4 separate regions of the Homo sapiens genome follow, and regions 2, 3 and 4 are each reported to be linked to region 1. Evidence: microRNA targets listed by miRTarBase, many of them from high-throughput screens and not tested one by one. Region 1 holds a microRNA gene; each other region holds the end of a gene's coding sequence.

Region 1 (6,206 bases):
GCTCAGGGGGACCTAGGGAGACCTGGGTTGCCTGCCTCAACTAGTGAAACTATCAAGAGCTAGAAACATCAGTGCCTTGTCCAGAGTGATCAGTATCTGCCATGGCGAGAGCCAGTGTTGTCCAACAGAGCCTGTCACAGTGATGGAAATGTCCAATATGGTGGTCACTTGCTACAGGTGCTACTGAGCATATGAAATGTGGCTACTGCATGAGGAACTGAATTTTTTCTTTTTTTGGAGACAGGGCAACAGCCTCTTGCCCAGGCTGGAGTGCAGTGGTACAATCAGCTCACGCAGCCTCAAACTCCTGGGCTCAAGTGATCCCCCTGTCTTAGCCTCCCCAGGGACTACAGGTGCACACAACCACACCCGGCTAATTTTAATTAATATTATGTTTTTGTAGAAATGGTGTCTCCCTAGTTCTTGGGTATCCTATCTAGAACAATAAATAATAAGACCAAAAAAAAAAAAAAAATAGAAAGAAATGATGTCTCCCTATGTTGCCCAGGCTGGTCATGAACTCCTGGCCTCAAGTGATCCTCCCATCTTGGCCTTGGCCTCCCAAAGTGCTGGGATTACAGGGATGAGAAACCATGCCTGGCTTGAAACAATTTTTTTTTGAAACAGGCTGTCACCCAGGCTGGAGTACAGTGGTGTGATCATGGCTCACTGCAGCCTAGATTTCCTGGGCTCAAGTGATCCCCCTGCCTCAGCCTCCTGCGTAGCTGTGACTACATGCATGCACAACCCAACCCAGCTAGTTTTGTTTGTTTGTTTGTTTGTTTGTAAAGATGGAGTCTTGCTATGTTGTCCAGGCTGGTCTCAAACTCCTGGCCTCAAGTGATCCTGTCACCTCAACCTCCCAAAGTATTGGGATTACAGGCATAAGCCACCCCACTTGGCCTGAATTGTTAATTGCATTTAATTAACTTAAACTGAAAGAGCCACCTGTGGCTATACTGGATGATATAGAGCACCAAAGGTTTGGTGTGCATGAACCCAGGGTACCTCTCCCAGCAGCCCTAACAGGTTGGAAACAATACCCATTTTCTAACTGAAATAGAGGCCGAGGGATGTTGGGAACTACTCCAGGCCCCTGACCAAGCAGAATGAGCTGGGGTGAGAACTGATGGTCAGGATACGCCCTCCCTGTCATCACCAAACAGGGACAGATGGAGGCTGTGAGTGACGGCATGGGGCTGGGACATGACAGGCCCCACTTGCCCCAGACTCACCGCCAGGTAGGCCAGAGCAGGGGTTCCATTGAGGCAGATCTCCATTGGTGTCTCTTGGTTGTAGCGGGTGTCATAGAACCGGGGCCAAGTTGATGGGATGGAGCTGCCTGCCTGGCCCAGGAACCAGTAGGCCTCAAAGATCTTGGTCAGGTCTCGAGCCAGGCAGCTGCAGTTGTACATGACCACGCCCAGCTCCTTGACCTGTAGGAGGGCAGTGCTGAGCTCAGCGATAGCGGCCTAGTGCTCACAGATGACAGGGACACTCCCCAGTCTGGTCTCTGTCTTTCCCCCTGTCCCACAGTACCCCCTCCACCCCAGCTCCAATAGCTAAAGTCCTAGAATGATTATCAACTTAAGTTTTGATGAAAATCAGTTATTCCAAAGCTCCAGGTTTCCTGAACGTTTGCAATCTGCTGTTGCTTCTACCCTCCACTGAGCTAGCTTCTACTCATTCTTAGGTCTAGGCTGACATGTTGCCTCCTTCAGGAAGCCTCCCATGACTACCCAGCCTGCACCAGGCATTCCTCTGGGCTCTCACAGTCCCTTGGGATTCCCTCCTCATTCTTTCTGGTGACAAACTGGTCTTCCCATTGGGCTGGGAGGACAGGCACTAGGGATGTCTCAGTCACAGCTATATCTACAGCATCTCCCTGCATAATTGCTGAGATTAAAGGTTAGGGGAACTATCTGTTGAGGAAATGAATTCATGAGTTATTGTCCTGTCTTATCTTCACCTCATTGCCCAAGCTGTTTCCTGTTCCATCTTGCGCTAATTCCTCCCTATCCTTCAGGGATCAGATTAGTTATACCTCCTTTGGGAAACCCTCCAATGCCCCAGGTTGGGGTCTCTGAGCTTCCACAGCCCTCTGTTCCCTCCATCCTGGCCCTGACCCTCTGCCTGTGTCTCCCCAACCCCGGCCCTGACCCCTCTGGGCTGTCACTGTCAGGTGACAGGCCAGTCTGCATTGGGCTGGGAGTTCCATGAGGTCCATCTGTTACCACCATGTTCCCAACATTACCCAGGATAGGGCTGGACTTAGAGCAGGCACACAGAGATGTACAATGAAGATCAAATGGGTGCGCAGGTTCTTGAATGCCATGTAGAGGGGCTGGTAGCTGCAATTGGGGATCAGAGGGAGCCCCAGGCTTCCAGGAGCAGGGGGAGGGCAGTAGAGGGCTCCATTTAGGGATTCTTTGTTTTGTAACAGGGTCTCACTCTGTCACTCAGGCTGGAGTGCAGTGGCATGAATACAACCCACTGTAGCCTCAAACTCCTGGGCTCAAGTGATCCTCCCACCTCAGTCTCCCAAGGAGCTGGGACCAGAGGTGTGTGCCACCACACCGGGCTTATTTTTTTTTTTTTGGTAGAGATGGGGTCTCACTATGTTGCCCAGGCTGGTCTCCAACTCCTGGGCTCAAGCAATCCTCCCACCTTGGCCTCCCAAAGTGTTGAGATTATAGGTGTGAGCCACCGTGCATGGCTTGGATTAGGGAGGCCTGGTAGGAGGCAAGAAGGAAGCCATTACAGAGAATGGGTGGAGAGGACTCTGGATTGAGTGAGGGATGCAGTCGGAGGCTGGGTGCCCTGTGGGGCAGGGAGTGGCCTGGAAGGAAGGTAGACAGGGTGCAGACAGACCTGGGTCAGTGAACGCCAGTCCATGTTGGCACTGCCCAGGTAGAAGTGGGTCTGGTCCACCACCCAGAACTTGGTATGCAGGACGCCATGGGTCAGCTTCTGCATGTCCACCATGCGGACCTGGGCACCTGTGACCAGCAGGGGCAGAGATCAGGGGCCAGGCTGGGTACCCCCAGGCCCAGACCAGCCCCAGTTGGGCCCCAGCTCACCGCTCTGCAGCAGAGCCTGCAGGTCCGCCTGTGGCTGGGGCCCGCTGGGCTTGCTCACAGCGATGCGGACGTTCACGCCCTTTGGTGCCAGGGTCTGCAGCTGCCGGAGGACCTCCTCACCCTGCGGGGAGGGGAGAGCTTCTGAGGGGCTGGACCAGCCAGCTCTCCAACCCCACAAGGTAATGCCCGGTGGAGTTATTTTGAGACATGATTAGGAGTAAACAGACTTTACATTAGCCTGCATAGATTAAAGACTTTACAGATTAAAATATTAAAAGACTTCCTTATCTGTTTTAAACATCTTTATCTGCTTTAATAATTAGTTGCCCTGTGATCCCCCTCCAAGTCCTCCTGACCCCTCCTGCCCCTCCAGGGACTTTCTCAAAATTCAGCATCAAGGCAGGGCCTCCAGGCATCTCCCAGTATGGTGGGGGCGAGGCTCAGGCAGGGGGTCCTGGAAGGTATCGGGTGAGGCACGATGATGCCAACAACAGCAACAGTCAAGGATGCCCTGGAACCTACTGTGTGCCAGGCCCTGTTCTAGGCCTCTTCTCAGCGAACTCACTGAATTCTCACAACCCAGTGAGGCTGGTTTAATTATAATCCCCACAGAGAACTCAGTAGTGGAGTGGGATTTTGTTTTTGTTTTTTTGTTTGTTTGTTTGTTGAGACAGGGACTTGCTATGTTGCCCAGGCTGATCTTCAATCCCTGGGCTCAAGCATTCCGCCTGCCTCAGTCTCCCAAGTAGCTAGTACCTCAGGAGTGCACCACCACATCCAGCTATGGAGCAGGATTTGAACCCAGACCATCTGCCTCCTACATCTGTGTTTTAAACCACTTTAGAGGGAGCCAGCAGGGAGTGGGAGCTCATACGGTTTTTTAACATAAAAAAATTTTTTTTTAGAGACAGGGTTTCACTATGTTGCCCAGGCTAGAGTGCAGTGGCATGATCACAGCTCACTGCAGCCTCCAATTCCTAGGCTCAAGTCATTCTCCTGCTTCAGCCTCCCAAGTAGCTGGGACCACAGGTGTGTACCACTATGCCTGGCTTTGGTTTTTAACTTTTGTAATTATTATTATTACTTTTTCTTTTTCTTTTTTTTGAGACAGGGTCTTGCTATGTTGCCTGGGCTGGAGTGTAGTGGCATGATCACGGCTCGCTGCAGCCTCCAACTCCTGGGCTCAAGCCATCCTCCTCCTTCCATCTCCTGAGTATCTGAGACTGCAGGCATGCACCACAACACCCTCCTAATTTTTTTTTATTTTTAGTAGAGATGGTTGAGGGGAGGTGGGGGGCGGGTCTCACTATGTTGCTCAGGCTAGTCTCGAACTCTTGGGCTCCAGTGATCCTCCTGTCTAGGCCTCCCAAAGTGCTGGGATTACAGGTGTGAATCACCACACTTGGCCATAATTATTTTTTTCAGGCAGTTCTTAAGGAGCCTTGTAATTTTAGTTAAGTTTTAAGACAACTTCTCACAAAAAGAGCCAGTAGGGAGAAGAAAACAGAAGGAACAAATTCATGGTTTTTCAATGGAAGAGGTTATCCATGTAGGCTGTTCCTTTTCAAATTGTGAAGCTTTTATGTTCTTTAAGTTTGTCTGCAGACCATACCAGGATATATAGTAACAGCAGACTCACAAAGGCTGACTCTGTGCCAGGCACTGTGCTAAAATTTGCATGGATTAGTCCATTTCATCCTCACAAGAGCCCTAAGAAGCAGGTGCTATAAATTGGCCCCATTTTACAGATAAAGAAACTGAAGCTGGAGAGAAGAGGTGGCCTGCCTGGGGTCACACAGCTGGGAGGTGGCCCCTGTCTTGAGGCTGGGCTGTTAATTACTCCACTCTTCCCTTTCTTTGTGTGACTGGGTCAGGACAGCTTGTGGGTGAGTGACATCTGCCAGCCTAATAATCCCTTGTAACCAAACCCGCACCCTGACATTCAGAGGCCTACAGATGACCGTGACAAACGCCCCCAGTCCAGAGAGCCACGTGACGACAGCTGCTTGCAAACACCTGTGTCCAATCTGCTGTGTGAGACACACCCCTCTGTCTCCTGGGCTGCAGGAGAAACCCCTTCATTCCCCACAGCCCCCGCTGCCTCCCACCCCCTGCCCCTGCTGCCGGCCAGGGCCAAGGTTGCAGGTACCTGCTGGGCAGAGGGCTCCTGCGTGTGGGTGTCATTGTTGGTGAGGGTCCAGTAGAAGGAGGCGATGTCCAGGCTGCTGTGCGCACCGGCGAGCAGGCCCAGCCAGGCCTGGCTGGTGGAAGGGTTCCCCGTGGAGGCATTGGGGAAGTCCAGGCCCTCAGGAATGCTTTCCACCAGCACTGCTCTGGGGGGTGGGGGATGCTATCAGCCATACGGTGCCGGAGAGCAAGGGCTGGGAGGTGAGTGCTCAGCTGTCCGTCCATGGGTGTGTTGGATAGACTGTATTTTTTTTTTTTTAGAGACAGAGTCTTGCCCTGTCCCCCAGGCTGGAAGCGCAGTGGCGCCATCTCAGCTCACTGCAGCCTCGAACCCCTGGGCTCAAGCGATCCTCCCGCCTCAACCTCTTGAGTAGCTGGGACTACAGGTGTGCACCAGTATGCCTGGTTACTTTTTTTACTTTTAGTAGAGATGGAGCCGCACTACATTGCCCAGGCTGGTCTGGAACTCCTGGGCTCAAGCAATCCTCCCGCCTCAGCCCCGCAAAGTGTTGCAATTACAGGCGTGAGCCACCAAGCCCAGCTAAACTGTATTTGAGTTTTTCTTTTCTTTTAAAAAAAATTTTTTAAAACTGTGTGTATTTGAATGCGTGCCTGGACTCATGATCCTCTGCGTGTCTGTCTAGAGGTGTGGAAGGAAGGTCGTGTATTGAGATGTGTGTGTGGGTCCACAGATGTGGGTGGAAGATGCTGTGTCTGTTCACAGGCCTGACAGAAGATGACGCTGTGGCTGCCATAGAAACTATGTGTGTGGAGGAGGAGGGGGCGGGCGAGCACTTGGGAGCCTGCAACCTCCTCACTTGTCGCAAGCGCTGGGTAGGGCTGAGTGCAGGCCCTGTTTAGTGTGTGCTTAAGTGTACCTGGTCTGGCAGGCCCCTCCCCCACCAACTGCAGCACCCCCCACTTACTCGCAAGGGTCAT
Region 2 (6,206 bases), not on the chromosome of region 1:
TATTCAAGATAGAAAATGGGGACTCAGGCCAGGACTGATGGCTCATGCCTGTAATCCCAACACATTGGGAAGTGGAAGCAGGCGGATCACTTGAGTCCAAGAATTTGAGACCAGCCTGGGCAACATGGTGAAACTCCATCTCTCAAAAATACAAAAATTAGCTGGGCGTGGTGGCACATGCCTGTGGTCCCAACTACTCGAGAGGCCAAGGCAGGAGAATCGCTTGAGCCCATGAGGCAGAGACTGCAGTGAGCCGAGATCATGCCACTGCACTCCAGCCTGGACAACAGAGTGAGACCCTGTCTCAAAAAAAAAAAGAAAAGAAAAAGAAAATGGGTACTCATAAATGACTTTTATGCATGTTTTTTAAATCATAGAAATGAAACATTAGCATATATGAATGCTACATATTAACGAGGGGGGCAAGTTTCTTTCCTTTGATTGGGATGACATCAACACAGAGGTTGCACTGGACATTTCACGCTTATCAGGAGTTCTCACCCATTCATTCAACAAACATTAAGTGCCAATTTTCTGCAGAGTCTACGACCCTGTGCAGATAATCACACAACAGATGTTCTAAGGGACATAATAGTAGCATGCACTAGACACTCTGAGAGCACACAGAAGAAAGCAGGCAGCTTGGAGTGGCCATGATATATCACGCCTTTAGTGAGTGTAAAATGTCAAGGTAAATCACAGGATAATATATGCATGCTGCTAAGAGGTGAAACATGAGATAGAGTCCCTAACTGGAGGCAGAGAATAATCAAATCTTATAAGAACGTTGGGAATAAACTGTTGCTGATCCATAAATAGTTCACCCAGGGTAGAAAATGCAAATTCCTGGCTGGCAGCTATATGAGTGTAATGAGCCCGACGTCAGCATGGGAGGTGGGGACTGAGGTAACCTAGAGACCCTGTATCCTGTCTAAAGAGGCAGCCAGTTCTCAACACCAGCCAAAAATCACCATGTAGAAATGTGGATGCAGTGTTGTCAGACCTTTTGACTTTTCTAGGAAAATCTGTAAATATGGGTTACTTAACGCAAGATCTCCCAATTTTTAAAAGGCATCTAATTCAAGTATTTTCAAAACACCACATAAAGCAAAGAAAATACATCCCCGCCCCCACCGCCCCCCACCCCGCCAGCTTTGATTTCATCACTGAAGGTGATCTCTCTGCTAGTCCCAGGATCCCAAAGCAATTGCTTATTCACCTGTACCTTTCCCCTCGCCCCACAGGTCTGCTCATTTATTTTGGATATGGCATCTGGAACAGCACCCTGGAAATCAGCGCTCGAGAAGAGGCCCTGCACCAAAGCACGTACCAACGCTACGACGTGGATGACCCCTTCTCAGTGGAGGAGGGTTTCTCCTACGCCACAGAGGGCGAGAGCCAGGAGGACTGGGGCGGGCCCACTGAAGACAAAGGCTTCTATTACCAACAGATGTCAGATGCGAAGGCAAACGGCCGGACAAGTAGCAAAGCGAAGAGCAAAAGCAAACACAAACAGAACTCAGAGGCCCTGATTGCAAATGATGAGTTAGATTACTCTCCAGAGTAGGAGAAACACACAAGTGGGTAGAAATGGTGATGACTGATTTTCAGTAACTTAACCTGTGGGCTAGAAGGTGAAAACTTTTTTGGCTCTCATTTCACAAATCCAGCCTTCCCCAAATTCAATCCCTAGTCATAGCCTGTCATTTGCTACTTTTGCTCTTCAGGATAGTTCTGTTGAAGGGCTTAACCTGGGTCCCCTAACTGGTCGCCTTGTTAAATAAAATAAATAAATAAACAAGAGGCTATATGAAATTCCATCTTAGGTGCAACCACCAGAGCTGATGGTACCAAATGTTTCCTAGGCCTTTGCTTTGCTGGTTGAAGCCCAAGCAGGGGCTCTGGGCAGAAGGCAGAATTTCAGTCACCTGAGACATGGGGACAAAGCTCTGTTCTTGGCATGTCAGGCTGAGTGCTGCTCCCCGAGGTCAGGGTGGGTAGATGGGCATTGGCACTTCCTGAGCAAGCATCATTTTATCCTGCAATCTCACCCAAAATTAATTCATGGAAAAGACACATGCTTCTTTTTATTCACCAACATTCTCACAGCTTCCAAACTATAATTTTAGGATCCAGCAAAGTTCAGGGACTCTGGACCATTTTCCCAATGGTTTCAGATTCACCATAAAGCAGTCAGGCAGACCCAGTGATATGGTAAGAAGCACCATCAAAGCTCTATGTAAATGCCCAGAAGAAAATTAAATAACCATATCTTGCGGTAAAAGCCAGAAGGGCATTGGCAGAAATTAACTCTCTGTCATGGCCTCTCTTATATCAGACTGCAGCTCCTGGTGATATGATGAAAGCGGGCAAAGGTGGAGCATGATTTCATGGCACTGATATGCCTTGAAAAAGTAGGTTGTTTGTTTTATAATCAGATAAAAATTTTTACAAGGAGAAGTGAGCCAGCCACTGAGATCACATTGCAAATTCTCTTTCATATTTCTAAAATTATAAATTCTAAAGTTTTTGAGATAGGCAACCACTTGATTGGTGTGTGCTACTCTGAAAACAAAATAGGCTGAAGTATAGCGACTTAGGTAGTTGCATTCCATGAGATCACATTTCACTTCTGAACCTTATTCCTTGGGGCTAGCTCACTTTCAGAGGTGTATTTTTTTTTCCTGTTATTTCCCAGAGTAGTTTCACTGAAGCCCAGAGAAATATCTACCTGGTAAGATGTAAATTTGGGCCATAAAAGGGGCTATTAAAAGAATTTTCTCAGAAATAGAATAGATGAGAGAATTTGCAAAGGAAAAAAACACACATGGGCTACAATATAAATTCTACTCTTGGGTTACAAGAATTCCTGTGGCTGCACTGAGATACGTACAAATGTATGTGAAGGCACAATTTGAATCAAGCTATCATAGAATTAACCAAGCTATTAAAATTAATCAAGCTATTAATAAAATCTCTGTGAGGATTTCCTGAAAGAGGGACAAAAGAAGAAATTCCTTGTCCTTTCTCTCCTGGATGTATCAGTATGCCAAACGTTTTCCAGAACATATTCGCTAGCACTCAAGTCTGTTCTTTCTGAAAGGCTGAGGCTCATGCCATCTTGGCATGCTTTAGGATTATGGCAAGGAGGTAAAAGTCCATTTTTTCATTCAACTAACACTGGTTGAGAATAGACCCAATGCTAAGTGACAGGAATGAATAGAAGCATGGCACTTGCCCTTGGGGGCTACAGTCCATGGATGAGCAGCACTGGAGCCTGGTAAATGCAGATAAAACAACAAACTTGACAAGTCTCCAGGCTGATGCACTGGGTTTTAACATACATATAAAGATGAATTGAAACTAGTTTTTAAAAAATATGCTTTAAATAAATTACATATCGTAATCATAGCCAATGTATACCATTAAACTAAAATAACTGCAATTTTCTAGATATTTTTTATTCTTCTGTAGTCATTGTTTAGAACTCTGGTTTCCTGAGGTCATTTTGTCATTTTAATATCATGCTTGACAATGCTATGTTTTCTCTTCCCTAGAGTTAACCATAAAGATACAGTGCCTACTCTGTGAAATACAGCATTAGGAATTAATTATAAACTAATTATCAGTCATCTTTTGAAAACAAAGTTTTGAATTGGCTATAGGACTCAACAAATCTGCCTGGTGTAAATAGAATCTGTTAAGCTTGATACATATCTAGATAGATGAGGAGGGGTTGTATTCATTAAGCATGAGAATAGAGAAATAGGAGTGCAAAATGGCAAAATCTTAACGTGGGTGAAAGAGCTTCCTTTTACTAGTGAGGTTTAAGTATTAAAGTAACAATAGCCTGGTGGCAGATGAATGCAATTTCTATAGGATGGGAATGGAAAATGTATGCTTTGGTTAACACCATTGCTGTTGACTTCATGCAGATTCTATTAAGCACTCTCATTTCAGGAGCCATTTTTCCCACATAGTATATTAGTATATTTTAAGCTTAGCTCCCTTTATTTTTCTAAAGTTGATAAATCACCTCCCTAGCAACCTTAGTTTTAAAAAAAAAATCACTAAGATAGAAAAAGTATTTTCAGGTACATAGACATGTTTGTCCTCAGGTTTACCTGCTTCTGTGAACAGTCCCAGATTTTACAATGCAGTTTTCAAATACCATCAATCACTACAATGACAATATTACTATTTTCTTAACAGGTTTCTAAACGATGTATGTGTGGGATCACATTAAAAGTAAGATCACCTTATAATTATCTTAGAAACTTTGCCCCTTGAAGGGAGTCCAAGGAAGACCTACATTTTATTGAATTCTGAATAGCAAAAGCTCTCCGAGTGAGATTTCATTGTGTGGATTTGTGGTTTGGAGCCAATTACTTGATTTTCTTCAGATTTTATTCTACTTATTTATTGGTACTCTGCTTCATTTCAAAAGGATTTGAGGCAGCTACTAAAATATATATAATACAAAACAAAAATTAAGTGAGGAACTCAGAGCAAACAAAAATAGAAACAGAAAGGATAAGACAAAACTAGACGTATATTTAGTACATAAATGCAGAACCCTGACATGCTTTACTAAATTTGCCAATGAGTGACACCATGAAAAATAATAGAATTAGTGGTAATGACAAGAAGAAGTACTTCTGCATGATAAGAACAAATCTTTCCCCATGCAGGTAGAGGTTTGAAATAGCATAGATCATTAAAATCCACAGGTAAGCTTCAAACCTAGATTTTGCTAGCTACATGTGCCTGGCATATAGTGTGTATTCAAGAAATACCTGATGATTGACAGAATGAATGAATTGGAGGAAAATGAAATATTTATTCAACAATTACTTGTGGAGTGCCTATTATGTACTATGGCAGATATTGATATCGTAAGTCAGATAAAAATCCAGCTCTTAAGAAGTAGAGGAAATAGAGCTTGGTGTGGTGGCATGTGCCTATGATCCCAGATAGTTGAGAGACTGAGGGAGGAGGATCACTTGAGCCCAGGAGTTCAAGGCTGCAGTGAGCTATGATCACACCACTGTACTCCAGCCTGGGTAACAGAAGAATACCCTGTCTCTTAAAAAGGAAAATCAAATAGGGGAAATGGGATATATAAATAAAGAACAATAGTGAATGTGTCAGGTGAGATGACGGACTTGTAATGTGCTGTGGGGGGTCAAATATGAAGAAGGCCTTCTTCCTCTGGAAAGGTCATAAAGAATGTCACACTTGTGTTGGAACTTGTGAAGTGGGTAGAATTTTATCAAGTAGAAATGAGAGAAAGGCATGCCAAGCAAAGGATCGGCATGAATAAGGTCTACTAGTTTGTGGTCCTCTGGCTAAGAATTTGTGCTGTGCCTCCATTAAGAGAAAGCAAGGAGCTAGTTTGCCTGGAGCACATGATTTATGCATGACTTATACATGCAACAATAAGAAATAATGCTAGGAAGGCAGGTGAGGGATCACTCACAGAGAGACTTGAATGTCACACTGAGCTGACTGGCTTTCCTCGGGTGAGAGAGTGGGAAATAATTGGGGAACTGACGAAAGTGTGAATCCAGGAAGGCTGAACTTTAAGAAAGCTGAGACGGTGGCTTCCTTACCTATGCAAGGAACTAACAAGCCACATATACACTCCAAATTGATTTAACAAATTAAAGAGAAAAATAGCTGTACTTTGAGTCCTGTGTCTGCATTCATCATTAACCTAAGAAAATACAGCCATTTAATACGTGGACAAGCAACACAATTTAACAGCCACTTTAAAGTTTTCAACAATAGGTTTCAACAACTAAACCTAACAACTTTTTATATCTATCTAATCTAAACAGTAAAATCTCAGCTCCAGGTTTTACTGAGCTTGAGTGCTACTTTTTTTTTTTTAGACAGAGTCTCATTCTGTCACCCAGGCTGGAGTGCAGTGGCATGATCTTGGCTCACTGCAACCTTCACCTCCCGGGTTCAAGCTATTCTCCTGCCTCAGCCTCCCAAGCAGCTGGGATTATAGGCGTGTGCCAGTTCTACTTCTTAGTAACAAACTAGTAGCTAATCAAATGCCTACATAATGGTCATGATAAATCTGTTTAAATAAATGGCGGGCGGAAGGGAGTTGTTGAATTTAACAATCCATCCTTCTTCAGAATCTATAGGTCAGCCAGAATATAAATCTAGTAATTATTGAAAAACAAAACACAAAC
Region 3 (6,206 bases), not on the chromosome of region 1:
ACAAAAATTAACTGAAGATGGATTAAAGACTTAAACATAAGACCTAAAATCATAAAAACCCTAGAAGAAAACTAGGCAATAGCATTCAGGGCATAGGCATGGGCAAAGATTTCATTTCTAAAACACCAAAAGCAATGGCAACAAAACCAAAATTGACAAATGGGATCTAATTAAAGTAAAGAGCTTTGCACAGCAAAATAAACTGTCATCGGAGCGAACAGGCAACATACAGAATGGGAGAAAAGTTTTGCAATCTATCCATCTGACAAAGGGCTAATATCTACAATCTACAAGGAACTTAAACAAATTTACAAGAAAAAAACAAACAACCCAATCAAAAAGTGGGTGAAGTATATGAACAGACATTTCTCAAAAGAAGACATTTATGTGTCCAACAAACATATGAAAAAAAGCTCATAATTGCTGGTCATTAGAGAAATGCAAATCCAAACCACAATGAGATACCATCTCACAACAGTTAGAATGGTGATCATTAAAAAGAAAGGAAACAACAGATGCTGGAGAGGATGTGGAGAAATAGGAACACTTTTACACTGTTGGTGGAGTGTAAATTAGTCAACTATTGTGGAAGACAGTGTGGTGATTCCTCAAGGATCTAGAAGCAGAAATACCATTTGACCCTGCAATATACCCTGGGTATATACCCAAAGAATTATAAATCATTCTACTATAAAGACACATGCACACATATGTTTATTGCAGCACTGTTCACAATAGCAAAGACTTGGAATCAACCCAAATGCCCAGCAATGATAGACTGGATTAAAAAAATGTGGCACATACACACCATGGAATACTATGCAGCCATAAAAAAGGATGAGTTCATGTCCTTTGCAGGGACATGGATGAAGCTGGAAACCATCATTCTCAGCAAACTAACAAAGGAACAGAAAACCAAATACCGCATGTTCTCACTAGTAAGTGGGAATTGAACAATGAGAACATATGGACACAGGGAAGGGAACACCACTTGGGGCCTGTTGATGGGTGGAAGGCTAGGGGAGGGATAGCATTAGGAAAAAAACCTAATGTAGATGATGGGTTGATGAGTGCAGCAAACCATCATGGCATGTGTATACCTGCGCAACAAACCTGCATATTCTGCACATGTATCCAGAACTTAAAGTATTATAAAGAAAAAAAGAAAAAATTTGAAAAAATGTTGCTGATCCTTTGTCTTGTTTTTCAGAGTCAAGGAAACTTTTATTTTGAGCTATTGACAGCTTTTTACAAATAAGTATACTCCTATGAACAAAATTTGGAGCATATTTGTTTCTCTCTACCTTATTTCTCCAGAATTTGGAAACTATTTCTGAGTATTCTTAATTTATGGCAGTATAGTTATTTATGTAAGTGCAATAAGAATTTGTTTTCATTTGTAACAGGACACAATTGGAGAAACTGGTTATTTTACCAAGGCTGTGACTGGAATGACATGCTTTCCTTTAAAGAATCAAACTTGCCCTAAAGAGCCAATAAAAGATTTTTGGGAAAACTGGCCTTATACCTTGTCTACACAGTCCCTGCACAGGGTTCCTGACCTGTGGTAAATAAAGAATGACACTTTATGACAGGCCCAGGGCCCCAAGTTATCTTGGGACCTCAAGGGGAGAAGAATTCACCCAACTCATAGGTATTTGATGGTATAAAACATGGCTGGGCAGTTTGAGGCAGGAGAATCACTTGAACCCAGTTGGCAGAGGTTGCAGTGAGCTGAGATTGCACCATTGCACTCCAGCCTGGGTGACAGAGCGAGACTCCATCGCAAAAAAAAAAAAACCCAAAAACAAAAAATAAAGGCTGATCTGAGATGCCTTCTATGGAACAAAGTTCCATCAAAGCCAATTTAAAAAGCCTATGTGAAAAATAATTATTCTTGCTGCACTTTATACAAATAATCTGGCTAAGTGCAACAAAGCAAATCGGTCCTACCATGATGTGTCTTTAGTAAAAATGGGAAACTGGAGAGAGAAAAATTATGTTTCAAAAACTATGGTACATCTGTTGTTGGATTCTAGTCTTGCCTAATATTTTTCAATTTTTATTATTTTCTACAGTTTGGGCTGAATTCTAATGTTTCTTGGGTACAAGTTTTCAAAATAATGTTTTCATTTTTTTCCCTTCTTTTTCCCCCCATTTTTCCTCATTTGGAGTCACTGAAAACTAAGTTGTGCTTTTGTAAAGCCCTGTGACCTGATGCTAGATAACTTAAACTTCAAAAGGAAATAACAGCAGCCTATTTACATACATAAGCCACTTTCAAACCTGCCTACTGATATACGGGCTTCAGAGTAATGTGACCTATATCGATTTACCAGGATTGTTCTTTTATATCTTGTAGTTTTTCTCTCTCCCCCTGTTTTCTCTGCATAGGACATGAGACTTCTCAACTTGCTAAAAATAAGCTTTCCTAATAACTTGGGACCTAACTGTCTAGGAATGAACCATTTTAGCCATGAGAGGCCAGATGAAACCTGAGACCAGAGACTCATTTTCTTCTAAAATGCTTTCTCCGAAGATTTTAAAAAAGATAAGGGGGGAAATGTGAAAGGAAAGTAAATCTTGAAAATCTTGGGCCCCCCAAAATCACTAACCTAAAGGGAAAAGTCAAGCTGGGAACTGCTTAGGGCAAACCTGCTTCCCATTCTATTCAAAGTCATCCCTCTGCTCACTGAGGAAAATGCATATCTGATTGCCTTCTTTGGAAAGGTTAATCAGAAACTGAAAAGAATGCAACTGTTTTTCTCTCACCTACCTGTGGCCTGGAAGCTCCCTCCCTTCTTGAGTTGTCCCTCCTTTCTGGACGGAACCAATGTACATCTTACATATATTGATTGATGTCTCATGTCTCCCTAAAATATATAAAACCAAGCTGTGCACCTTGGGAACATGTTATCAGGACCTTCTGAGGCTGTGTCACAGATGTACATCCTCAACCTTGGCAAAATAAACTTTCTAAATTAACTGAGACCTGTCTCAGATTTTTGAGGTTCATAAACTTCTCTGCAGAGTAATGTAAGACCTTCTCCTCATTAAGGGTGGGGTGACATTTTGCATATTACACTATATTTCTTTTCAGGAAGAATGTAATTATTTCTGGGGGCATCAAAGGGTTTGCATCCTACTCTCTAAGTCAAGCATTCACGTTTAGGTGTTGTTGCATTCAGAAGAATGAGAAAAGATCACTCTATAGCATGGCTGTTGAAATGGGGGCTAAGGAGAAGGAAGCTCTCTAAGATACCTGGTGGTGGGGTCAGAATTATTAACTCTAAAGATAATTATGGTTAGCAGGAATATTTAGTAGTTTTTCCTCCTTTCATTATAACTTTTTTCTCTACATCAAGCCTTTAGTTATGTCTTACTAAATGTTATAGTCCAGCAGGGGAGTTTAAAAGAAATAGGATCAGGCCTATGTCCCCAGGCCTATGAACAACTTGGGGAGTATAGCCACTTGGGAGATCCTGTTACTGTATGGACTGGTGGACTGCAGAAGAGGGAGGCAACTGTTTGGAGCAGGGTCAGCAGCAGACACAGCTTTCAGAAAGAGGGACATGTTCTGGACCATGTGAGCGTTGCCCAGATTCATAGAAATATAGGCCAGAAGAACCCTGATAGAGCATAGACTTCTTGATGACAAGAAGAATTGGGTTTGGAGTCCAGAATATCTAAGTTACATTACAAAGAGATACAAAGATGTGGATAAATAAATATATTTTTTATTCAATATTCAATTTAATCTATATTAGCCTATGTTTCACTTTATAGGCAATGCGTAGTTCTTAAATTCCAAGCTCTAGAATGCTGCTTGAGACTGTTCTGGCTGTTGTGCATCTGAGAATGAGCTTCTGGGATGGCATTCCTTGACACTGAAAACTTGAGAACACATATTACCATGAGGAAGCCCTCTAATCAGGCAGGAATGATGGTGGTCAAGGAAGACTTCCTGGTGAAGGTGACTCTTGAAATCAGTTGTGAATGACAAATCAGAATAGCAGGAGAGAGAATGTTAGATGGAAATAAGGCAATCTCAACAGAGAGAACAGCATGTATATAGCACAGGTTGAGAAGTAAAGGGAACAAAGAGGGTAATGAATGGAAAAAATAAGCCAGGGGAGATGGGATCTAAGAAACAGGTGGAGATAAGGCTGTATTCACAGGAGACAAAAATGGCTTAAAGGAAGAGATTCACCTGTAAATGGGAACAAGAGAATGGAGAGAGTTCAAGTTTATGATTACTTTATTTTTTGAACTCTTCTCTCTCCTGGAGCAATGAGCTGGGAGAAGGGCAAGGGGTACAAGGAGTGTGTGTGTGTGTGTGTGTGTGTGTGTGTGTGTGTGTGTGTGTTGGGGAGAGTGTTATGTGGTGGATGGGGAACAATATATTTACCTTCCACATAAGTTTTTATTGATACCAAGATGAGGTAAATAGAACTCTGGTGTGGATCTGTGGGTTTGAGTCCAATAAGCTTTCTCTTTTACATTCATCTTATTTAAATCTTTGCTGTCACAGTGAAGAAATAATTTAGAAAACTTATAAAAGCAATTGAGTTTAACACAGATTTTATTGCCCTATAGACAGTTATGATGTGACCAGTGGATATCAATGAAACTTCTTAATTATTTGAGTCTGAAAATGCATATTTAAAACATTAAAAGATTGACTCCACTTTGTGCCAAGCTCTGCGGGTAGGCATATTTCATATCTTAAAAAGGCTTGTAATTCATTCAGGGAGGCAAAAGCAAAATCTGTAATTAGAGGTTAGCCATAATGTTATGAAAGTGCCATGAGAATAGAGAGAGAGAATAAAATCATAAAGATATAAATAAACGTATTTGAACTACAGGTGATGTATTGTCTTAAATTACTTCTATATCATATGCCAGAGGGCCTTCAATGGAAAATCCTAGGTAGAAAGACACTCTTTCTATGTTCCTACCACTTCTGAGTGGACCTGAATAAACAGATATTACTGGTATTTTTATTTTTTCCTCTGTTCCATATTCTACAGAGATTAGCTTGCCTTCAGCCTGACCAGTTAGACGACGCAGGAGGTCTTTGACTTCATTTTTTTTCCACACATCCCCACTGTGCCAGAGGGAATTTGTATTTTGTGCTTTATCAAAGTACTGCTCTATTTTGGCCTTGTGAACAATACTGTTTAGACCCTTCCTTTTGCCCAGATAGAAAAGTGTGCTTGCCTGCTTGGACCTGCACATGCGCTTGTACTGTCCCCTGAAGGATCTATTTAAGGATGAAACATACTTTTCTATTAGTTTGGAATCTTGATCTAGCTCTTGATTTTCTGGCCAGAACAGGAGGCAGGCCAAGAAATAAGGACCTGGATATTGATGACTTAGTCCTACAAATTGCAAGACCTCTCGGAGTTGTTTTTTTAGCGTGGTAAGTGGTTGAATTAACTTGGAGTTGGGCTTTAGACAACTCAGAATAATGTTGGCCAAAATGGAATTTTGTTTCTCATTTGTCATGGGCTTTTTTGAGTTTTGCTGCAGTAGGAAGGCATATTCATTCACTATACTTTCCATGGTGGTAGCATCTTTGTAGTTTGGATTAAGATATTCCAAGAGTCCAGCAAACCTATCTGCTCTCAGAGCTTCTAGCTTTTTCCTGCAATTCTCCTCCTGGAGTAATTGACTCTCTTTACTTTGTAATAGACATGGATCCAAATGACAGAAAAGTTCTGTGTATTTCCTGAAACAACGACTGACTTTCTTGCTTAACATGATTTCTGCAATTTCTTTTTGGGTATACCTCATTTTCAGAAGAACCATATAATCAATAAAAAAGTCAAAGCACCTTTTCAGATCTGATTGTAAATTTTTTAGGTGGGATGTGAACTTGCTAAGAGCCAAATAACATTCATTTCTGGGATCAGGAGGAATGGTCCACTTTCCTGATAAAAATTGCACCATATGTTTTTTGGATAATTCATTTTCTTTGTGGAAAAAGGGAGTGAGCTGAAGAATCTGGATAGTGTAAAGACCAACTTCTATTTCACCCAAGAAACAAGCTGTGTTATACATGTCATATCGTCTCTGGGACTTCTGTGGTGACCAGTTCTCGGTTTCATAGTTTTTACTATCAGTTTGCCTTTGGGATTCTTTGAAAGCTCTTGAGGCTTTTTCCGCAGCTTCTAGGAGATGTGTTAGGTCATTAACAGTAATGC
Region 4 (6,206 bases), not on the chromosome of region 1:
TGCAGCTAGCTCAGTGTCTGCCCAAATAGCTGCCCAGTTTTGTGGTTGAAACCCAGGGCCCTGGTGGCATAGGCACCTGAGGGAATCCCCTGGTCTGTGGGTTGTGAATACCATGGGAAAAGTGTAGTATCTGGGCTGGAATGCACCATCCCTCAGGGCACAGTCCCTCAGGGCTTCCCGTGGCTAGGGGAGGGAGTTCTCCCAACCCCTTGTACTTCCCGGGTAAGGTGAACCCCACCTTGCTTCTGCTCACCCTCCATGAGCTGCACCCACTGTCTAACCAGTCCCAATGAGATGAGCTGGGTACCTCAGTTGGAAATGCAGAAATCACCCACCTTCTGCATTGATCTCACTGGAAGCTGCAGACCAGAGCTGTTCCTATTTGGCCATCTTACCAGCCACCAAAATCATACATTTATGGTCAACTAATCATCCCAAGTCTCACACTGAGATACACAGAGCCTAAAGAGGGACAAGGGAAATCTTTCTTGGCATTGCATAGGTCCTCCTCCCTACTTCCTCCCTAACTCCCAGCCCTGGAGCAGAACTGCTTCTCAAAGCTGACCTGGCCTCCTTCCCTCTCTTCTTTCCCTGGGTTGTCCAGATCTAAGAGTGATATTATCCCTCTACTGCTCTCAAACATGGCTCCTGACCTCTCCCTTTATATCTCATGATTGATGGTCCTTGAGAGTTTCCCTGGCTTCCTGTCCCTTCTTCTCTACCAGTGTCTCATGCATGAACCCACAATGGTAGGAAGGATCAGGGAGCATGGAGGGAGAAGAGGAAGGCAAAGAAAACAAGAATGAGAATGGGAGGGCTTTGCTGTTGAGCTAAGAACAGAAGTTTGTAGGTAGCCCCCTCCTTTAAATGAGGAACAGCTTCCTCCCCAACATGGTCATCACCATGCCCACCTACCTGCCATTTAGTGTTTTTCAAGGATTAAAGGGGAAGTAGCAAGGAGAGCCTTTAAATTACTTGACAGAAGACTAGGCCATGATTCCGTTTTGTTTATTCTTCTCTCCCCAACTCTGCCTTTCCACTCTCAGTTATTGTGCCCATTCCTCTGGGAATAGTGGAACACAATAACACTCACTACACCCTGTCTTTGGGCCCCTCCTCCTCTCCTTCCCTGAAAGAATGGAAGTGGCAAAGTGGCAGGAGCAGGATTGGCCTGTGGCAGACAGAACAAGGCAATAAAGGAGGAAGAGGTTTCTTGGGAGTGGAGAAGGAGCTAGAAGGAACCCAAAAAGGCCCATGGGTAGAAACCATGTCATTGTTTGCTGGGAGGGAAAAGGTGGAGACCTGAGTCTGGCACAGGGTAGGCTTGACCCACTCACATGCTCTTGTGTCTCATCCACAGCAAGCAATGGCATTCGGCTCCCTGAGTCCCTGACTTCCAATCTCAGTCCTCACAAATGCACACAAGTGGAAAAAGCCTGCTAAACTCTGCTCTCCTAGACCCTTTCTTATCTTTCTCTGCTCAGCTCATCTTCTCTGGGAGCACAGAGACTGGAAAACGAGTTCATACCCCCTCACACTTGGTTCAGTTCTTCAGTTCCATCTCTGTCTGTGGGATCAAGAATTGGAGCATTCTGCCTCTTCACTCTGTCCCATGAATGAATAATCTGTCCATTTCTCCAGTTCCTGAGCTTTTGTATGCTGCCTTTCTCTTGTGTCCTCAGAAAGGCAATGGAGCTCATGTCTATTAGCCATGTACTGAGAAGGTGGTGGGCAGTTATGCAATAGAATGACATCTCTTCCCTTTATCTCATTCTGCCATTTATTTCCTTACTTCCCATATCTCCATGGACATACATTTCTCCTCTTTTTCTGAGTTGGCAAGGGATGACATGAGTAGTCAGGATGCACGGGGAATGTGGCCCTAGGAGACTGTGTCAGAGGGCTGAAGGGCAGACTGGGCACTAATGAGTCAGCCAGGAGCACTGATTTCTAGATCCTGTTCCACAACCTCAGGGATGAGAATGTGCTTTTTCCTGGGGCCCTTGTATTCAAATGATGGTGGAGTATCTGAACTTGGAATAACAAATCCCAGTTCTCTGTTTCTGCTCAGACCCATCTAAAGGCAGTCACTTCCTGCCACTTGCCTTAAATAATTGATCTCTCAAATAGAACCCATGTTCCCTGCTCTCAAACCCTGCTGATAATGATGCCAGTGTAGATGAGGACCTGCACGATAAGCTTTGAAGGTAACAGGTATTATAACAGGGGTAAGCAGCTTTAGGAAAGTGGAGTGCTCTTTTGCTGACTTGTTCTGGGGGACTTTGCTGATTCTCATGAGTATAACTGCTGGGTCCATTGACCTAGTACATCCTTGAATTTTTTAGTTAACCTCCCTTCTTTATAAAAGCTACATGAATAAATTTATTTGAATGGTGGTATGATAGCAGCTATCCAGGATGCTAGCAAACATGGATTCACACAAAGAGAATGGAGTCCCCTGCAGGAATTTGAATTTCCCATTTTAGTTTCAAGGGCACAATCTCAGATCATTCTAGGAGGAGGGGTGGTGAGGCAGTCATAGTCTCCAAGCCTTTGGGAATATGAGATCCTTTCCTCCCAGGTCACTTCCTCCTTTTGGCTTAGCACTTTCATTCTTTTTAGTCGCCATTATGTGCAGTCACCTCTTTCCTCTTTCATTTCTACTTTATTGGCTTGAGGATGCACCTAGTAGCATAAATACTGTCCACAAAAATTCCACCCCTAGCCATCACCTCCCCTCCATTTTCAGGAATCTCAAGTTGAGGGTTTGTAGTATATTTTGGTTTTGTTACTCATGAGCAGTATAGCTAGCTGAATTGGGACATCAGTGTATTGTTTCAGGCTGACTAGAGAGGAGCACCTCTAGAACCAAATGAATGTCATGCCAGAAGGCTACCATTCTGACCATCATTAGTGGGCCTAAAAACCAGCTAGAAATGATGGAAAACTCATTAATGAAGAATGCTTAAAAGCTGGGCAAGTAGACAAAGCTTATTTTCTTTTCTAAATAACTAGGTGAAGGAAGAATGAAGAAAGTTCCAAATGTTTAGGAAACACCAAATGTGGCCAATCATTGTGTCAGACATGCTCACATGTGTGCATTTAATCCTCACAGTAGCCCTAAGAAGTAGGAATTATAATCCTCATTTTATAAATTTGGAAACAGGCTTAGAACGGTCTCTTGGTGGAAAAAATATCTGAAGACATCCATTTCAAAAAAGCAAACATTGGCCATTTCTGAGTGATTTGGTAACAAAGTTTTGTTTATTGTCTAAATTTAAGATAAAATGTGTCATTTTCATTACGAAGTACAATTTTATGGAATACTAAATAAACATATATAAATAAGCCTTGGCCAACATTATAAACCAGGATCTGACATAGATATAAATCCATGCCTTCCAACTTCCCTTGACGTCACATTATCTTCTCTTAAGAGATAGTCACTTTGGCTAATAGGGAAAAGAAAACCAGTAACATCAGAAAACAATTTCCATCTGGCCTGGCTCTGACTGGCATCATCACTGTGAGCCATATGCCTTACTTTTCTCTGACACTTCAGGATGTTCCCTCCTGGTATCAGCTGTGCACCAAAGCTAAAAGTTCACAAGGCTCTCCTTGCCATTCTCAATAAATCAGTTTTGCAAAATCTCCAGGCCTTCTTGCAGAGTATTCAGGCATATAGGGTTGTAGTTGATCAGCCATAAAGATGGGGCTCCCTTTAGGTCCTGCAGCAGTATGGCACCAGTTTGAAAGCCTCCATCCAGTCCACATAATGAAAGTCAGAAAAAGACCATTTACCACTTATCTGTGCTTTCTACAAAAAAAAACCAGATACCTGGATGAGGGCCAAGACTGCCTCCCTCATCATTTCACTATATGTCTATGTTGACAAAGTCAGCAAGAGGAGAGATATCAAGTGCTTGCAAGGTCCCTAGGCCTGTCCTTACATTCAGACCTTCCCTTGCTACTTGTAATTCCTTGACAGAAGACATTGTGGTAGTGGGTACTCAGGAGAGAAGCAACAAGAATGGGACAATTCTCCCAGGGCAAACACTGAATCCTCTCTTTCTGTTACAGAGTAAAGTTCCCTGAGTCCTGGTCTTGATTGTTCATGTAGACAGAATGATAACTATTGAAACTGTCCCTAATTTAGTAATTCTCTCTGAGCTCCCTTAAGAGGGCCCAAGTACTCTTATTTTCCATTTCTCTTGACAAAGAGTAAAAAATGAGACTAAGAGCCTTGACTATCATATGTCTGTTGAGCACTTGATACCTGAAAAATTTAGATGACTGGGGGTGGGGAAGCTTTGAATAACCAGATATATACATATAGATAGATAGCTAAAGGAATCTCATCACTACACTTTCATTTTTTTATTTATAAAGTACTCCTTATGTATCAACTCTTGTGCTAGGCACAGAAGATGCAATGCTGAATAAAACAGACAGCTTAGATTCCTTTTTGTGAAGTGTAACATGTACCCTTCCCAAATGTTTTATTAATCACAGATTCCTATCATTGGGTGCCTCATAATTTTGTATTCTTTCACCACTTCTAAAGTCAAGCTCTACATGGTAACTTTCCTCAGTTTGGAGACACTAGACATGCTTCCCTTCTTCTGTGGAGTTTCTGGTGTCTAAGAAGGCTCGATCGCCTACTAAAGTTTCTCTTGCATAAGCTACACGTATAAGGCTGCTCACCTGTGTGAGTTCTCTGGTGTTTAATAAGGTGGGAGTTCTGAATGAATCTTTTTCCACATTCATCACATTTAAAGGGCTTCTCTCCTGTGTGAATTCTTTGGTGTGTGTGTAGATTTGTGTTATGACTAAAGCTTTTCCCACACCATGAGCATCTATATGGTTTTATTCCTTGATGGGTCATGAAGTGCTTATTAAGATCTGAACTCCATCTAAACCTCCTGTCACATTGTTGACATTTATAGGGTTTCTCTCCAGTGTGAATTCTGTGGTGTTTAATAAGATCAGAGCTAACTCTGAAGCTTTTCCCACATTCCTGACACTTAAAAGGTTTCTCCCCTGTGGGGCCTTTCCCATGAAGATCCATAAGTTTTGGAAGCTCTTGTTTACAAGTTGCAGGTTTCTTTCTTTTCTTCCTTGGAAAAGCTCGATGCCATTTCTGTACACTGTGTGTATCACCAGGATTTTCCCTGCCCATTGTTTTCTGGGCAATTTTCATTCTGGTCTTTTTTGATACTTCGCATCCTGATGTTTGTATTTCTGATGTAGAAACAGATATAGGATGATCATTTCCAGTGTCATTTTTTAGCTTTAACCCTGTTAGAATAAACAGAATAATCAGCCATCTGTGTCCCAGTGAAAGAAAGCTACATAAATGGAGAGAAAAGTCAATGATGATTGCTTTAAAAGAAATACAGGAACAAGTGATTTCTGGTCCAGTCTGGACAAAATGGCATAGACCCATTTCTCCTTGATCCTCCCTGATAGGCACAAAAACAAACCCATTAAGTGATATGAGATAACAAAAAGAAAATTCTAAAAATGGTAAGAAAAAGACAAACTGGTTTAGGACCCCAGAAAAAAAAAATAACATAGCAGGGTGGCTTATATCCCCACACCCAACAGAAGAAGGCAACTATCAACAGAAGGCTGCCTGGGTAGGCTTATTGTTTCCTGAATGTAAAAAGAAGTGCAAATAAAGACTTGTTGATTGAACTCTGGATAAAATAGAATATGTGACTAGCGCCAATGTGCAGTTGGTCTTGGGCAAACATACATGATTCTATAACTTTAGCACTGGAGCTGCTGGAAAGGTAAAAGCTAAATGGAGTTTCTGCTCTTTTTTACATTTTCCATGAACTAATGACAACTTCAGAAGACTAGTAGGATTGTGTACTTTGTAACTCAGAAGGCTGCATTTTTGAGCATTAACTTGCAGCATATTTCACTATATTTGTTATTTTCTATTTATTACAACTGGACAGCTCCAAACTCTTATACTATTTAGTATCTTGTAGCTAGGTAATAGTTCACTTTTTGCTTAATTTCTGCAAGCCAATAAAAGGAAATGTATTTAAGTATCGAGATGTTCAAAGGAAAGAGTAAAAAGTATTCATGGGGAAAAAGCTCTGTTTAACACAAGTCTTATTGTATTGCATTATTAGCTGATTTCACTCACTTTATATTTGCAAAATAATTGACATTTCTAATATTTACTGAAATTG

The links. Region 1 holds the annotated microRNA hsa-miR-6796-3p (GAAGCUCUCCCCUCCCCGCAG, at 3,202-3,222, opposite strand). A microRNA usually pairs through its seed, bases 2 to 8, with sites in the 3' UTR of a target mRNA and lowers its output. Matches are read on the target gene's strand: a 7mer-m8 pairs with bases 2 to 8, a 7mer-A1 pairs with bases 2 to 7 and ends in A, and an 8mer does both.
Region 2: miRTarBase lists SLC7A14 as a target of hsa-miR-6796-3p. Seed matches in the 3' UTR shown: 7mer-m8 at 3,804-3,810 and 7mer-m8 at 4,938-4,944.
Region 3: the mRNA of SAMD9L is a reported target of hsa-miR-6796-3p. Seed matches in the 3' UTR shown: 7mer-m8 at 4,697-4,703 and 7mer-m8 at 3,810-3,816.
Region 4: the mRNA of ZNF75D is a reported target of hsa-miR-6796-3p. Seed matches in the 3' UTR shown: 7mer-m8 at 4,567-4,573.

What each region holds. Positions count from the first base shown.
Region 1 is chr19:40,366,903-40,373,108 of GRCh38, reverse strand. It overlaps MIR6796 (microRNA 6796), which reads right to left and starts at 3,263; the gene lies at 3,202-3,263. It overlaps PLD3 (phospholipase D family member 3), which reads right to left. Exons shown (of 13, transcript NM_012268.4): 5 at 6,194-6,206; 6 at 5,230-5,413; 7 at 3,081-3,201; 8 at 2,872-2,999; 9 at 1,236-1,436. RefSeq lists an enhancer at 1,033-1,327 and a silencer at 4,998-5,163.
Region 2 is chr3:170,462,416-170,468,621 of GRCh38, reverse strand. It overlaps SLC7A14 (solute carrier family 7 member 14), which reads left to right. Exons shown (of 8, transcript NM_020949.3): 8 at 1,245-6,206. The coding sequence ends at 1,567. It overlaps SLC7A14-AS1 (SLC7A14 antisense RNA 1), which reads right to left and starts at 1,337. Exons shown (of 6, transcript NR_135556.1): 1 at 1,226-1,337.
Region 3 is chr7:93,126,339-93,132,544 of GRCh38, forward strand. SAMD9L (sterile alpha motif domain containing 9 like) reads right to left here. Exons shown (of 5, transcript NM_152703.5): 5 at 3,718-6,206. The coding sequence ends at 4,879. Among named protein-coding and RNA genes, the nearest start is that of SAMD9, 11 kb to the left of the region's middle.
Region 4 is chrX:135,282,549-135,288,754 of GRCh38, forward strand. ZNF75D (zinc finger protein 75D) reads right to left here. Exons shown (of 7, transcript NM_007131.5): 7 at 3,243-5,298. The coding sequence ends at 4,589. Among named protein-coding and RNA genes, the nearest start is that of ETDC, 24 kb to the right of the region's middle.